Linked DNA regions of Homo sapiens. The protein of the gene in region 3 purifies or fractionates together with the protein of the main gene of each other region. This does not show direct contact. Each region holds a gene or a part of one and is shown on either strand. Other genes may lie near its edges.

The links. The genes of interacting proteins can lie anywhere in the genome.
Region 1: the proteins of MAP3K20 (region 3) and TNS3 purify together in Homo sapiens (affinity purification with mass spectrometry, with the first as the bait; one large-scale study listed by BioGRID). This does not show direct contact.
Region 2: the proteins of MAP3K20 (region 3) and MEIS1 purify together in Homo sapiens (affinity purification with mass spectrometry; one large-scale study listed by BioGRID and IntAct). This does not show direct contact.
Region 4: the proteins of MAP3K20 (region 3) and PBX1 purify together in Homo sapiens (affinity purification with mass spectrometry; one large-scale study listed by BioGRID and IntAct). This does not show direct contact.

Annotation. Positions count from the first base shown.
Region 1 is NC_000007.14:47,575,612-47,579,111, reverse strand, and holds part of TNS3 (tensin-3), read left to right. Parts: intron 1-3,500. UniProt on the Homo sapiens protein: May act as a protein phosphatase and/or a lipid phosphatase. Involved in the dissociation of the integrin-tensin-actin complex. EGF activates TNS4 and down-regulates TNS3 which results in capping the tail of ITGB1.
Region 2 is NC_000002.12:66,511,625-66,515,124, forward strand, and holds part of MEIS1 (homeobox protein Meis1), read left to right. Parts: intron 1-524; coding exon 525-670; intron 671-3,500. UniProt on the Homo sapiens protein: Acts as a transcriptional regulator of PAX6. Acts as a transcriptional activator of PF4 in complex with PBX1 or PBX2. Required for hematopoiesis, megakaryocyte lineage development and vascular patterning.
Region 3 is NC_000002.12:173,194,346-173,197,845, forward strand, and holds part of MAP3K20 (mitogen-activated protein kinase kinase kinase 20), read left to right. Parts: intron 1-3,366; exon of another isoform or gene 3,367-3,500. UniProt on the Homo sapiens protein: Stress-activated component of a protein kinase signal transduction cascade that promotes programmed cell death in response to various stress, such as ribosomal stress, osmotic shock and ionizing radiation.
Region 4 is NC_000001.11:164,807,184-164,810,683, forward strand, and holds part of PBX1 (pre-B-cell leukemia transcription factor 1), read left to right. Parts: intron 1-358; coding exon 359-494; intron 495-3,500. UniProt on the Homo sapiens protein: Transcription factor which binds the DNA sequence 5'-TGATTGAT-3' as part of a heterodimer with HOX proteins such as HOXA1, HOXA5, HOXB7 and HOXB8. Binds to the DNA sequence 5'-TGATTGAC-3' in complex with a nuclear factor which is not a class I HOX protein.

The sequences.
Region 1 (3,500 bases), on a different chromosome or scaffold from region 3:
AAGAGTATTAAAAACCATCACAACATGGAACACAGTTCTTTCTTTCTGCCCCCACAGTGAAGGGCGTGTTGCGTGGCTTCATCTTCACAGGGATCATGGCTCACAGTTGTGTCGTTTCCACGCTGCCTCACTGCTCCTAAAACGCTGAGACAAGAAAAATCGCTGCCACCAAAATGCTGCTGAGCAGGACTAAATTCTCCTAGATTGAGGGCGTTTTGAATCTTAGAGTATGTTGAATCCGGATGCAGGCCCGTGTCCTGCCGTGGGGCTTTTCGAGTGCAGCTCGGGCAGGAACAGTGGTTTCCTTGATGTCTATCCGTTTCTCGTAAAAGCAGAAAACTAGACTCTCCAAGTTTCGTGAGCTTTCTGTTTGTACTCTGTGACTCAGGAATGTGTTTGGTACACATCCATCACTGCAATGTGGGATGTAGTGCTGAGCTCAGGGTCCCTCGGGTGTCTCCATTGTCTGCATGGCGGCATCTCCTGTCCTGCTCAGTGTACTCCAGGAGCACCGTGGCCCTCTAGACACACCTCTAACCACCGCCCCCCCCCAACCCCCTGCCCCATGCACCTGGCGCAGCTCTACCTGGTATCCCTCACCTGTTGCCTCCTACCCTCGCTGGGAGTTGCCTCTGCGAAACAGGAGGGAGGAGGCCAGTGAAAATGAGGGTGACTGAGGATGGGGGCCATCAACTTGGGGATGAAGCACTGCACACAATTTAGGGTCCCTCGGAATGCCTCACTGTGTCAGGGAAGGGGAGGATTCTCACATGCTTCTTTTTATTTTTTTATTTTTATTTTTTTGAGATGGAGTCTTGCTGGAGTCCAGGCTGGAGTCCAGTCGGGCCATCTCAGCTCACTGCAATCTCTGCCTCCTGGGTTCAAGCAATTCAGCCTCAGCCTCCCAAGTAGCTGGGATTACAGGCGCATACCACCATGCCCAGCTAATTTTTGTATTTTTAGTAGAGATGGGGTTTCACCTTGTTGGCTAGGCTGGTCTCGAACTCCTGACCTCAGGTGATCCACCTGCCTCGGCCTCCCAAAGCGTGGGGTTACAGGCGTGAGCCACTGTGCCCGGCCGATTTTTTTTTTTTTTTAGAAGGCAGTAGTCTACTACTCTTTTGTCTCCTGGGCAAAATGAATGAAAGATTATACTGAAGGATTCTATGTCTGTGATCTAGAAAATTCCCTCTGGCAGAGGGAGGTGCTCCCAGAGCTAGGGAAGTGCTCCTCAGAGCCACCCCTCAGGGGAGAGACCTCTCTGTCCCTGTCTCCACCCCAGCGCTGGGCAGGAAGCCCTGGGAGCCCTCTGCAAACAGCCCGCCAGCTCTCAGCCTAATAACGCGGCTAACAAGACCCCCTTCCTTTTACTACTCAAGTACCCAAGGTGGCTTGGGCACTTTCTGTCCCTAGTCTGATCGTTGCTGAACCGTGCATGTATGCCATCCTGATGGTCTCCCTTTTCTGGAAGAGAGCGCTGAGACTTAGCGAGCTCAAGTAACTTGTGTGTGTTGTGAGGATACTGAGCCTTGGATCTGAATCCCGGTCCGTCAGCAATGCTTGGAGTTCTTGCCAAGATGAGGGGTTTGTGCAGTCCCCACCCACAGCCCAGCCCCTGGAGTGGCCAGGCCAAGGCTCAGGAGCTGCGGCGTGCCTGCTGTCTACCTCAGCCAGTGCGCCAGCCCCAGCTGCTTCCTCGGACCCCAAGGCTGGGCCTTTCTTTACTCTTCCTTCCTCCCTCAGCTCTAATTATGGTTCATGTTAGATTGTCTGCCCTTCCTCTTCCTCTTCTCTTTTGGGGAAAGATAATAGCACTTAATACGCCCTTTGCAGGCCTGGCTTTGTTTCTAAGATATCAGAAGAATCTTTAGGAATCTTTCTTCCAGCTGCCCAAGCGAGCGGCAACCTGTCGGCACCCAGGAAGGATGAATACGGGTGCCCTGCTGACGATTACAAGTGCCACTCCTAGCCAGGCCATGCCCCTGGGGACACCGGGGACACCTCCAGGTGGACTAAAGTGTGTCACCTCCTTTCATTGTGTCTTGGCAGCCACAGTGTGACGTGGCACCTCTTGTGTGTAGAGTTTATGAAACTGCTCCTGAAAAGTAGAGACCAATTCGTTGATGCTTTGAATACACTGGAATACACTCGTGGCGATACTGAAAGAAAGAAAGTCCTCGGGAAGTGTCTGGCCAAGGCCGTTCACTGCCGTCTGCAGTTGCTTTTCTTTTTACAGGAGAGCCCGGGCTCTGCTCCAGGCCCTGGGATTATTTCTCGCTGGAGGATTCAGGAATCTGCGCTCTCCCCATCACCCTGGAACACAGCTGCAGTGTGTAACATTTCACTCACTTGGAGCCACACAATAAAAGGCACAGGCCCACATCTGGCTGTGCAGGGCAGGCGGGCAGGAGAGTGGGCCCTGGGGCACACTGGGCCATTAGCAGGGGCATCTGCGTCCTGGCCTGTGCACATTCCTCCCTGGAGCGCCGGGCTGGCTCTGCAAACAAAGGGGCCTGGTCCTGGCATTCTTCTCCACCTTGTAATCCATCACCTTTCTTAGAGGTGTCCCTGGGCGCCTACCCCTTTCATCACTGGCCATTTGGGAGGTAGATCAAAGGTACGCACAGGAGGCAGTGACATAGGCCAGGCTCTGGCATCCCACAAACCTGGGGCAGAACTGTCCTTTGTCCTGAGAGGTCCTGGGGTTATTGTGACTGTGTTTGTCATTTGTCACCTGCAGCCTGGGGTTGTCGTTCCTCCACAGGTTTGCTCCTCCACTGGTTCCGGAGCTCAGGGGTGGGAGCCACGTGGGGTTTTGTTTCCTCCTTTTGGGCTCCAGGCCCAGTGTACTTTGGTCCTGCTGAATTTCCATGGCCCCAGGGGCCTGAAAAGCACCTTGTGGTCCTTCTGGAGAACCACTTCCTCATTCTTGGAGGTGCTAATCTGATCCACTGGGAGGGAGCTGTGTGCTAAGTGGTTGACACAGGGGAGGCCAGCGTGATAGAGATGAGTTTTTCTCCAAAGATCAAGGACAGGTGTTTCCAGTTTGTCTCCTCTGGAAAGACCTGCAGAGCCGGGTGGACAGGGCTGGAGGAAAGGGGGCCTGTGTCCATGTCTTGGGTAGGTGCTAAGGGAGACAGGAGGGCTCTACGTGGGTGAAGAATGCATTTCTCTCTTGTCCTGCACGCAGGAGGGAGGCACATTTTTTATCTGTATTACTCGGAGAGTAGCAGAAGACTCTCAAGTAATGAGCATATTTTTGCTGCTTTTTTTTTTTTTTTTTTTTTTTGAGGCAGAGTCTCACTCTGTCACCCAGGCTGGAGTGTAGTGGTACAATCTCAGCTTACTGCAAGATCTGCCTCCCGGGTTCACGCCATTCTCCTGCCTCAGCCTCCCAAGTAGCTGGGACTACAGGCGCCTGCCACTACGCCTGGCTGCCCGGCTAATTTTTTGTATTTTTAGTAGAGACGGGGTTTCACCATGTTAGCCAGAATGGTCTC
Region 2 (3,500 bases), about 110 Mb from region 3:
CTATGTCAAACTGCTTATATGATGGATTACCTACATTTCCCCATCCTAGTTTAACTAGTCTTAAGATAGATCACTTGTGGAAATAGTTGATATCTTAAATGAATCTTCTCACAAGTCAATGTCAATGACTGTGGGATTTGAATGCCCAGGCAGCCATAGCGCCACAGCTAATGACTGCCACCATGTTTAACTCCCCGGTAGGAGTTACACTTAACCTGTCTCAGCTATACATATTGGAATAATTACCATAGCAACAAAGCCACAAGGGGATTGGATATTTCCCTCCATTCCCTTTGACTTTTGGCAATGTTCTTTGGAAGAAGTTCTTTAGACCTGACTGCTCTTGAGCCTAGGCCTTGTTCTTTCTCTGTCTTGGAAAACAAAACACAACAAAAAAACAGTACCAAAGAAACTATTAATCATTTAAATTTGCTCTTTTGGTTTTGTTTATATCCAAAGGCATTCTATTTGAATAAAGCATGTCAAGGTAGCATCAGTCAAAATTTGATTCGCTATGTTTGCAGGTGATGGCTTGGACAACAGTGTAGCTTCCCCCAGCACAGGTGACGATGATGACCCTGATAAGGACAAAAAGCGTCACAAAAAGCGTGGCATCTTTCCCAAAGTAGCCACAAATATCATGAGGGCGTGGCTGTTCCAGCATCTAACAGTAAGTGGATTCTAAATGACATATATAAACTAAATATGGACAATGAACCAGTTTTTATACAAAAAAATGAGAAAAAAGTGATCCCTCTGGACTTGAAATATTTAATAAATAACTGTGTTCCCACAGTTTTTGCAAAAGTATTAGCACTTATTTCTTAGATAGATACCCCAAATGAGAAATTTTATTTAAAATTCACGATTGCGATTTTGTTAACTTTCATAAGTTAAAAGATTTAGGTGTTCATGTGCACTTGTGATTTTAAGTATGTGTTTTAATGATGTTGCTTTTCTAAGTGTGACCCTTAAGTGCTCAGAACCATCTCCTACTAAGAAGAAAGTTAGACAAACCCTAGAGAGAGACTTAATATCTTCTGATGCTTTAGTGGATCTTTACAACAAATGGTCCACAAAAATTTAAATCATGTTGCAATGGCAAGATGATCACATAATTTGCTTTTAAGTGGTTTGAATGCACTGGCTTCCATTACAAAACATTCATGTAAGTCAGAGCTCCACAGTGAAAGTTGTCCCTGTATTTAGAACTGTAAAGGAAAACAGCAATATAGAGTCAGCTCTTCCTGTGTAGTCCCTTGTGACTTTTCAAGCAGAGTAACAGTTTATATTGTCTGTGCCAGTATTGCTGTTTTCACTGCAGGAATTCTCCTGGAGATGTGAGAAACTGGAGATTTGGGGCTTTATGCCACTGGGGGATTTGTTTTGTTTGGTTATTGTTCTGAATGAATTTCATGTTCAAAATATTTATAATAATAATATTTTGGTGGATATTTTTGTAAGTGCATACCAATTTAAAGAAGAAGATACAATGAAGATTTGTGGATAAAATAATATTTTAAAAATCAACAAAATTGTTGACCAGAGGAATTTCAATATTAGAGACAAAGGATGAATTTAGACAGGTTGTAGCAAAGTTACATAGATGGATAAATGTTAAAAACTCTTGAGGGTTGTTTTTTAATATCAGGAGAAAATATTTTGTGTTACTATTTTTGTCTTAGCTTGCTTTTCCTAAAGTCAATTTTTCCTTAAATATTAAAGTTAATCTTGCATTGTCATAAACACTTGCAGAGCCTGTTTACCTTCATACCTGGGCCCACATTCAAAGCCATGTTCCTCAGTGAGTTTTACGGGTACAGAGATACAAACTCAGGGGATGTCTGCAGGTCATGTTAGTTCTGCTCCTCTGGATAGAGGCTGTGCCTCTAATAATACTCAAGGGTATAAATTAATCCAGATTTTCCAGCATCAGTGAATAAGATAAAAGCTGAGAGCAGCAGGAATAGCTAAAAAAAAAAAAAAGTTTCCTCCCTTCTCTTCTTCCCATAATAATTCCAAACAGTATCTAGACTACACTACAGTTTTTGAGTAAACTTCAGGGCTTGGCTATGCTGGAAATTAGTTGGAGATTTAGATTATTTGAGCTGTTTTGATTTTAACATCATATTAGGTTTACCTAGAATCTGATTCAGGCACCACTACTTATCTGACACCTGTTGCATGTGTGTAGATATTTCAATATCTGACTCCTGCAAATTCCCCACTGAGGATTATCAATCACTAATGAACTAGGGGAAAGAGGACTCAGGTCTTGAGGGCATATCATGAAAAACGAATGATATGACATTTAGATAAGAAGTGGCAATTGGTCAAAGGTGTGGTACAATGATGCTGATGCAATGATGCTAATATTTTATCTCCAGAAATAACCAGCTAACTCGCTGTGTGGAATGAGTTGGTGTGGTGGATAAAATCAGGTTGGCCCTGAAGTCACAATCAAATAATTTCTATTTCCTATAGACTAACAGAAACAATGAATAGATTTCTTCAGCCCCCATCTCAATCTGCAAAGGAGTTTTGGCTTTACTTGAAGCTGAGGTGCCCCTGAATAAAATATAATCAAATATTGGTTCAGACAGAATCAGGAGAGAGAGAAGCAAGCTATTTTATGCAGCCACTAGTTTTCCTGTTTTTCTAGGTTGTACCCTTGTGAAGACCCTTGCATAGAGCTACATTATCTTCTTGAAACAAACAAACAAACAAAAAACCCAAATAAACTTTCTAACAGCCCGCATGATTTTACATGCATTGCATTGCTTATATGGACTATGTGTTTGTTACTGGGGCAATTGTAATCGAAATTATTCATGAACTGCCTGATTTCTTGAGACCTAAATAATAGTCTTCAGTTTTGAGGTCTTTGCTGGCCTGTGCCACTGCCCTGGAAGGGGAAGCCCATTCATCCATGTTTCCCCAGCTTTCTGTGAATGTTTATAGGTGTTACCTTGTGGTTTCCATTGGATATTTCTACCTCCATTACCCACTCCAATGCCATCTGCTCATACAGAAATATTGATTAATGATAATGGTCTGTAGATAGCTAATTGTTCTTATAACATCATCTGAAGAGCAAAGTTAAGAGATATGTTTAAATTTTTCATCTTTTCCTTCCCCCAATGAAAAAGATTCCTTCCCACTTCTCTAATTGCAAGAGCAAATAGACCTCCAGCTATAAGGAACACCCGTTACCCTTGTTTTGTAATCCTTCTTGAAGGAATGCATGGACTGCTTAGGTAATATTTATAGTAAGGAGCTAATTTTAATAAATTCTATTTTAAAAACCTATAGAATCTAAAGAGAGTTTTGTTGTTGTTTGTCTAAATGTAAGTAACCACTGACATCTCAGTACTAATTCTTTAGTGACTTTATTTCAAGTTCTGGGAGGTCTTCAGGGATGCACAATTCATTAGGAAGACTGTACAAATTTTAAATGGTCACGTCATTGCTATGTGATTAATGCAACTTATCTAGGAAAT
Region 3 (3,500 bases):
TCTCATTCTGTTTGTTCTAAATAAACACCATTAATGAGAGAAAAAATACGAGGTATGCTTTCCAGCGACTTTTTATTTAAACAACCACAGGTATTTTTTTAATGAAGAAAGCATTATGTGTTCAAAGTAGATGTTATAGAAAAGAGCAGGTGAGGATAGTTGTTAAGGTTGGGACCATGTTAGTTTTAGAAGTTTGTGGTCCATAAACTTGGAAAATGATACCTATTTTAATTCAAAATGTGGTTATTTTGAATTTTTTATGTCTTTTCAAAAATAGGTGAGTAGCCAAGACTCCTTTGTCAGTAGGAGCATTTATTTGCATTAAATATCCCATTGTTCATTGGGAGTCTGTTCTGTTCATTGAAACCCCCTCTACACACAGCAGTCACATACAGATGAATAAGACCATTAAAAAAAAGGTTTTTTTTTTAAAATCCACCCAAAAAACTGCAATATATTTTTGCTTTTTGTTTTTCTAATTTTTTAGACTGCTGTAAGAATTTAGCCCCTACTACTCCCAAAACCACCAGCCCTCCCCAGGTTGATAAACCTTTGTTGCTTCTTAACAAATGGCAAGACTCACTAACCTTGTACTGCCTTAAAATAAATGTGCTGTGAATGCCAGAAGTGGATTTTATGATCCTTGCTCTTAAGCTGGTAAACTTTGCTAGGGAGGCAATTGTTTCCCTCCATTTTATGAGAAATGAGATTTTTCTACCCTCTTATGAGAACTCTTGGAGGACTGAACCTGGAAGAGTGTTTAGTATGTTATCCACAAAAAAAGAAAAGCAAAAATCACTGAAAGAATAAGCCTTCTGAGAACACAAGGCCTAGCCTCTCTTTAAAAAAAAAAAAAAAAAAAAAGCTATTCTAATGACAATGCAGAAAGGATTACCTTCTTAGAAGCTTCTCAGCCAAAACCAGCCTTGAAAACATAGTGGCTTAAGAGACAGCATGGCTGCCTGGCTTGTCTGTGAGCACTGTTCCAGAACAAGCTGGGCTCAGGTAATGGCTTTCTATTGTTTGGAAAAGAAAGGGCAGAAAAAGTACGTAGTCTTTTCCAAGTTTCTATTCTGTAAACTGAAAACATAAATTTTCCTTGTGAGCACAGTTTAAATGTGAGGACGTCTCAATATAAAATGAGTCGGAAAATATTTTTAAGGTGAAAGATCACAATAATATTTGGCCTGAATCCTCATAACTGGTATTTTTAGGCATCATTTAATATATTTTTAGACCTCCAAGTGACTTCCTCAGTAAAGTTACTTTTGTATGCCAAATGTTATTTTTGTTTAGTGTGGAAAAAAAAAGCTGATGTCCTATCTTATACCACCTGCTTTTTGATACATCCCCAAATCCAGGGAATTAATAAAAGGAAATCATGAGATGTGCTGATACTGGAATTAAACTAAAGACCTCATTTGGGCTTCAGGACATAGCAGCTAATGACCCCACCTCAGACACTTTTACATCCATCAAGTAACTCCCTCAGCTGTAGTAGCTCTTCAGAGACACAGAGGGAGTCAAATGGAATTGGCTTATTTTTTTCTTTATTTTTCACGGTTAGAGCTCTCAGAGAAATATAACTTAAATTTTATTAGATTTTGGACATTTTCCAGCAGAATATTTTGGAATCAAGAATGACGTAAATGTTTTTCTGGTGTTGTCCCCCCAAACTCTTGGATTTGCAATTTACTTCACAAAATTCAGTCTGTGCATGTGTGCACACATGTACACGGCGTGTTTATCATACCTGCAGGCCAAACTCAGAAGAGGCACTGCTCATCTGTGCGTTTGGGGGTCTGGAGCGTTTGATTTATTGGAGGCTAACTCCCTGTTCCCATTCTCCTTAGGAATGCCACATCCATTAATTTACTTGCCCTTCGTATCTTTTCCCCTCCCCAGCCCTAGCCCCCTGTGGAGTGGTAATTGCAGCCAAATGAGGGGCTCCATTTCCTGCTCAGCCCTCTTGCTGCCCAGCCTCCCTCCCTGTGTAGGTCAGGGTGATTGCATACCTGTTCTGTCACCCTTCCTTTACGTGTGGTGTTCACTAGAATTGTCCCCTTGTGGGATGCCCCTTACCTTTTCCTAATCACTTGTGTGACTCAAATAGAATTATTCAGTAGCTCCTCTAAAGGAGTACCTTACACACTTGATTAAAAGCCCAAAGAGGCTTCAGTGAATTTTTTTTCTCCTGCTTGAGCAGCATCTGCCAATTTCCCTGATTTTCCTGCTAATTATCTTCGTATTAGCCAGAATTCATTTACTGTGTTATGGTTGAAATGAGACTGAGCACTGGCTGAGGAAATAGTGGATATGGAGTGAAAGGTTTCTATGATTTGCTTGACTAGAGAGTATGTGTGCTCCATCTACGTTCCTATTAGAAATGAGCTTTTGTTTTTAAAACAAGGGAAATCTGAGTCGAAGCCACTGGTTCTCTTCCTGCTTCTCCCAGGGCGCCATACCTAAGACAGGGCCTGTCGCATTCTCTCAAGTACTGTCACTTTCCCTTCACTCACATTAAAAGGAGTCAAGAGCCTGACCTTTGGGGTGAGCCAGCAGGTTCATAGTCTGGCTCTGTCACTGGATAACTGACTGTCTTTGGGCAAGTTTTTTTTTTTTAACTTTTTAAATAGTTACCTCACCTATAAAATAAGGGTAAGATGTATCCAGTAGGATTGCTATTAATCATGGTAATATATGAAAAGGGCATCTGGAATATAATAAGTACTCAATAAGCGGTGGTGGTTTTTATTATTAGGACTATTACTGATAAAACTAGAATTGTTTTTGCACTTTACAGAGTATTGGTAGACTCACATTTTTGAACTCCATTTGTATAAACAGGGAAAAGTAACATAGTATACAAATCTCCATTACTCAGTGTTTCAAGAGAACCCAAAATCAGCAGTATTCCTAGCATCAATTTGCTTTCTTTGGGCATTCCACTCAGATTTAATAATCATACTGATCTCAAGAACTGCACAAAGATGAACACACACATAAGCTCACTTTCACATAGTCAGCTTATATGTATAGAAAGTGTTTATTACATCTTAGAGTATGGTATAATAGATTATATTGTAGGTAGATGAAAATAGATCCCTTAGACCGACTCATTTTGCGGGAGATTTCTCCAAAATCTAAAATGTAACTTGTAAAATCTAAATATTACAATTTTGCAAGTATCTACCATTGTGGGGTAGGTAGGTTAGCCAGTGATTTGGATTTGGGGCTCAGTTATTTTTGATGAGACCATTATTGAACCTTTTAAAATATTGTTGAATTCCCAGTTATTATTTCCTAGACAAATGTATCAGAAATTGAAGGTAGAACGAGTTTTAACTAACAAAATATACAATCTAATTTGTGAGAACATAAAAATTCTGATAATTTATGAGATGACATTAAATCAGTCAGGCCCATTGGTTTCATAAAATTTTAAGTCTGGCTCTAGATGTCCTAATTTCTAAACCAGGTTTTTTCTTTATAAAAAAGAA
Region 4 (3,500 bases), on a different chromosome or scaffold from region 3:
GAGGTGGAGGTTCCAGTGAGCCAAGATCACACCACTGCACTCCAGCCTGGGTGACAGAGTGAAACTCCATCTCAAAAAAACAAACCAAGATGGCCCGAATTTTGAAACTTTATACTCCTCACTACTCTGCAAAAATATCTGTGACCACTCTTCTGTTCGGTGCCCAGATGGTACACAATGAAGTATTGAGCAAATGCTTTTAGCGTTGGTTTTGGCATCCAGCCCCTTTTGGTAAATCTGCTCCAAATTCACCTTTTGCTCAAAAATTTGTCTTCTCCCAGAAGTAGATTTATTCTCTCCCATTTTATATTTATTTGGTGTGAGCCTTTTTGTTATTATTTCCTTTCTCTTTACAAAGGCGGAAGAGACGGAATTTCAACAAGCAAGCGACAGAAATCCTGAATGAATATTTCTATTCCCATCTCAGCAACCCTTACCCCAGTGAGGAAGCCAAAGAGGAGTTAGCCAAGAAGTGTGGCATCACAGTCTCCCAGGTAAGCAGCACCTCAAAAGCCTCAGCCTGTAGCCTGGCCATGGCGGGGCCTCCGGGGCAGGCTCTTAGAGGTCTTGCTTTACTGGACATTCATGCCTTGCAAGTTCCATCAGCTATAGCCTTAAAATATCAAGGTAAGCACTTGATGTGTATGCGTATAAGTGAGTTTCTAGGTAAGTACTTGGCAAAACTTGAGAAGAACCAGCAGAAGGAAGAGAAGAATAAGTAGAGTACAATGTAAAAACAGGATTAGGGTTCTTCCCATCGAGCACTCCTTTGCTTCAAATGGGTGAGGTGTCTAAAGTGTACTAGGAAAGTTATCTGCATTCCTCATGCTGTTTTTTCAAATTCAGTCAATTCCTTAGCCATTTTTTGCCCAACCCAGGAACTTTAAGAGTCAGTGAATGGAACTAGTTGTTATATAGCCTTTTAAATGAAAGAACTTAAATGTCTCCTCTTGATGTGCTGACTCTATAACTGATGGGAGTGTAGGAATTTTAACATGTCACTGCGATTACATTGGAATGGTGAACAAAATGTCACTGAATGCCCCCTTCCCCCAAAGAGCAATAACCATAACAGGTGGTGTCTGATGACTTGGAAAGATACATGACATAAAATTTTTATAGGCCTAGAGTTTTCAACACGAATATGAAGCAGAGAAGTAGGCAATAATTATGTGTACGTGTATTTTGTCCACTCAAAAGATCCACCCAAACTTCTTATTCAGTCTGAACCTCAAATACCACCACTGGTTTCTAATTGAGAACCATAGTGATAATTCTGAAATCTATCGGAGAAGGTTTTTCTTAGAATTTTGTCACATGCAGGAGAATTAAATGTACTGATATTTCCATTAAAACTGGGGAGGGGAGGGAGTAGTGAAGGCTACTGTAGCGAGAAATTTCACTTACCATTTTTCAAATGAAGTAGATGCTCTTTTATATAAACTAAGCATCTGTACCTCCTTGAATTGAATCCTGACTTCTGTTAATCCCTGCAGGGTGCTGATCCCATCAACCTGTGTTTAGCTGTACAGAATTAGGTCCAGTCAGAATATAGAGCTCCACAAAAGTATTGACAATGAAGGGACTGTCCAAGCCTTCCCAACAAACTAAGATGATTTTACAGCAGCAAATATCCTTGAAAACATTCTTTCAGATAAAGCAGAATGAATTGACTCCTTTTTAACCTGGGCCTTCCTTAGGTGCTTTGACCCAGCTGGAGGTCATTTTTAGTCTTGACAGTTCTGGGAAACGGGAACGTCAGCGGTCAAACTCAAGTAGCCTAGTTTTTTCTAGGGCTGTCACCATTCTTATCCAAATCTAAACCCCTTTTCCACAAAAAAGGGAATTAATGCTTTTTGATACTTGCTACATGTTTGAGGAATGCTTCTAGGTATGGACCACAAATATGCAGCAAATATCAAATCACTGAATTTTATCATGGAACCTTCTGCTTTTAAAATATAATTAAATTACTACTGTCTGAATTCCAAGTGTGGAATTCAGAATTTCAACTTCCTGTTGAAGGTAAAAGGAATTCTCCTGGAGGTAATTTGTAGTATAGCTGGATACAAGTTAAAATCCTGATCTGTTCCCGCAACCTTCACTTCCTTCATTATGGAAACTCAAGGTACAAATAGTGTGTCCATTAAAATCCTTATTTACATATTGTGTCACCTTTCCCTTTCCTCTGTCCATGCCAAAGTCATGCCATTCTTTCTTCCCCATCACATCTGTCTCTCCCCAAAGCAACTAAGCTACCATTGCTAAACAAGTCCAATGGAAGACAGTATAATATGATGTCATAGAAGGAGCATTAAGCAAGGAGCCTATTTTTGACAAGAGTCAACTGTGGGATCCTAGGGAACTCACTCTTTCTTTTTGGATCTTAGTTGCCCCATTTACTAATCATGGTTTGTTGGATCACATGATTTATTAAATCTTTCTCCTAATTCCCAAAGCCAGGGAATACCTCTTGGGCTGTATCATTATTGTCTTTTTTTGAAGTCACAAATTCTTTTGAAATCTACTAAAAGCTATTGATTTCCCCCATGACCCAAAACAAAGATATGTTGCCCATACACCCAAATCCATCTGAAATCCGCCTATTGACTGTATCTCCTCAGATCCCTAAAGAGCCCTTTTTCTATACCAGAGCTACTCTAAGTGTGATCCACAGAATGCAGCATCAGCATCCCCTGGGAGCCTGTTAGAAATATAAATTCTTGAGTGTCACCCTAATTCTGAATCAGAATCTTTGAGGGTGAAATCTATAATAGAAATTTGTTTTAACAACTTCCCCATGAACACTTAACTTTGAAAAGCAATGTTCTATATGCTTTATCTGAGTGATCTTTTCCATGCTCACAGCTACAAATAATACCTCCATTTGAATACCTAATGGAACTTCTCCCCTGCAGCACCAAACTCATAAATTTTACTTCCTAATGGACTTCATCATGGCTCTGCCCAGAGGTTCTTCAAAATTAACTTGTTCAAAATGTGAATCAAACTCTTCCCATAAAACCTACTATTCTTTCTGTATTTCATGTCTCATTCTGTGTCTGTTATCTATACATCCCTAGTGCCTAACGCGTATTAGGCCCTTAGTCCATGACTGTTGAGTAATTAGTTCATTCATGATAACACTCATTTTATACATTGTCCAGATCATTGTCTGTTGGACAATGCAGGAAGTCCCTGAACTGACCTAGCACCTTCCTACCAGTTCCATTGTTGTCATTTAGAAGGGTATCATTCCCACAACATGTCCCCTCTTTACCCCCTTCAGCTCATATTTTTTTTACATATAATTGGACCTCAGGTATTTCTTCTTCAAAAGTCCTCTGAAATTATCTTCATCTTTTTCCCTTTTCTTTCAGCTTGTGCAGTTATCTGAGAAAAAAAATCTCCTTACCTTTTTTCTTCTTTTCCTATCCCATAAATCAAAAAGCAACCATAATTATGACTGATTCCTATGAATAGTGAAAGTTATGTCAAGA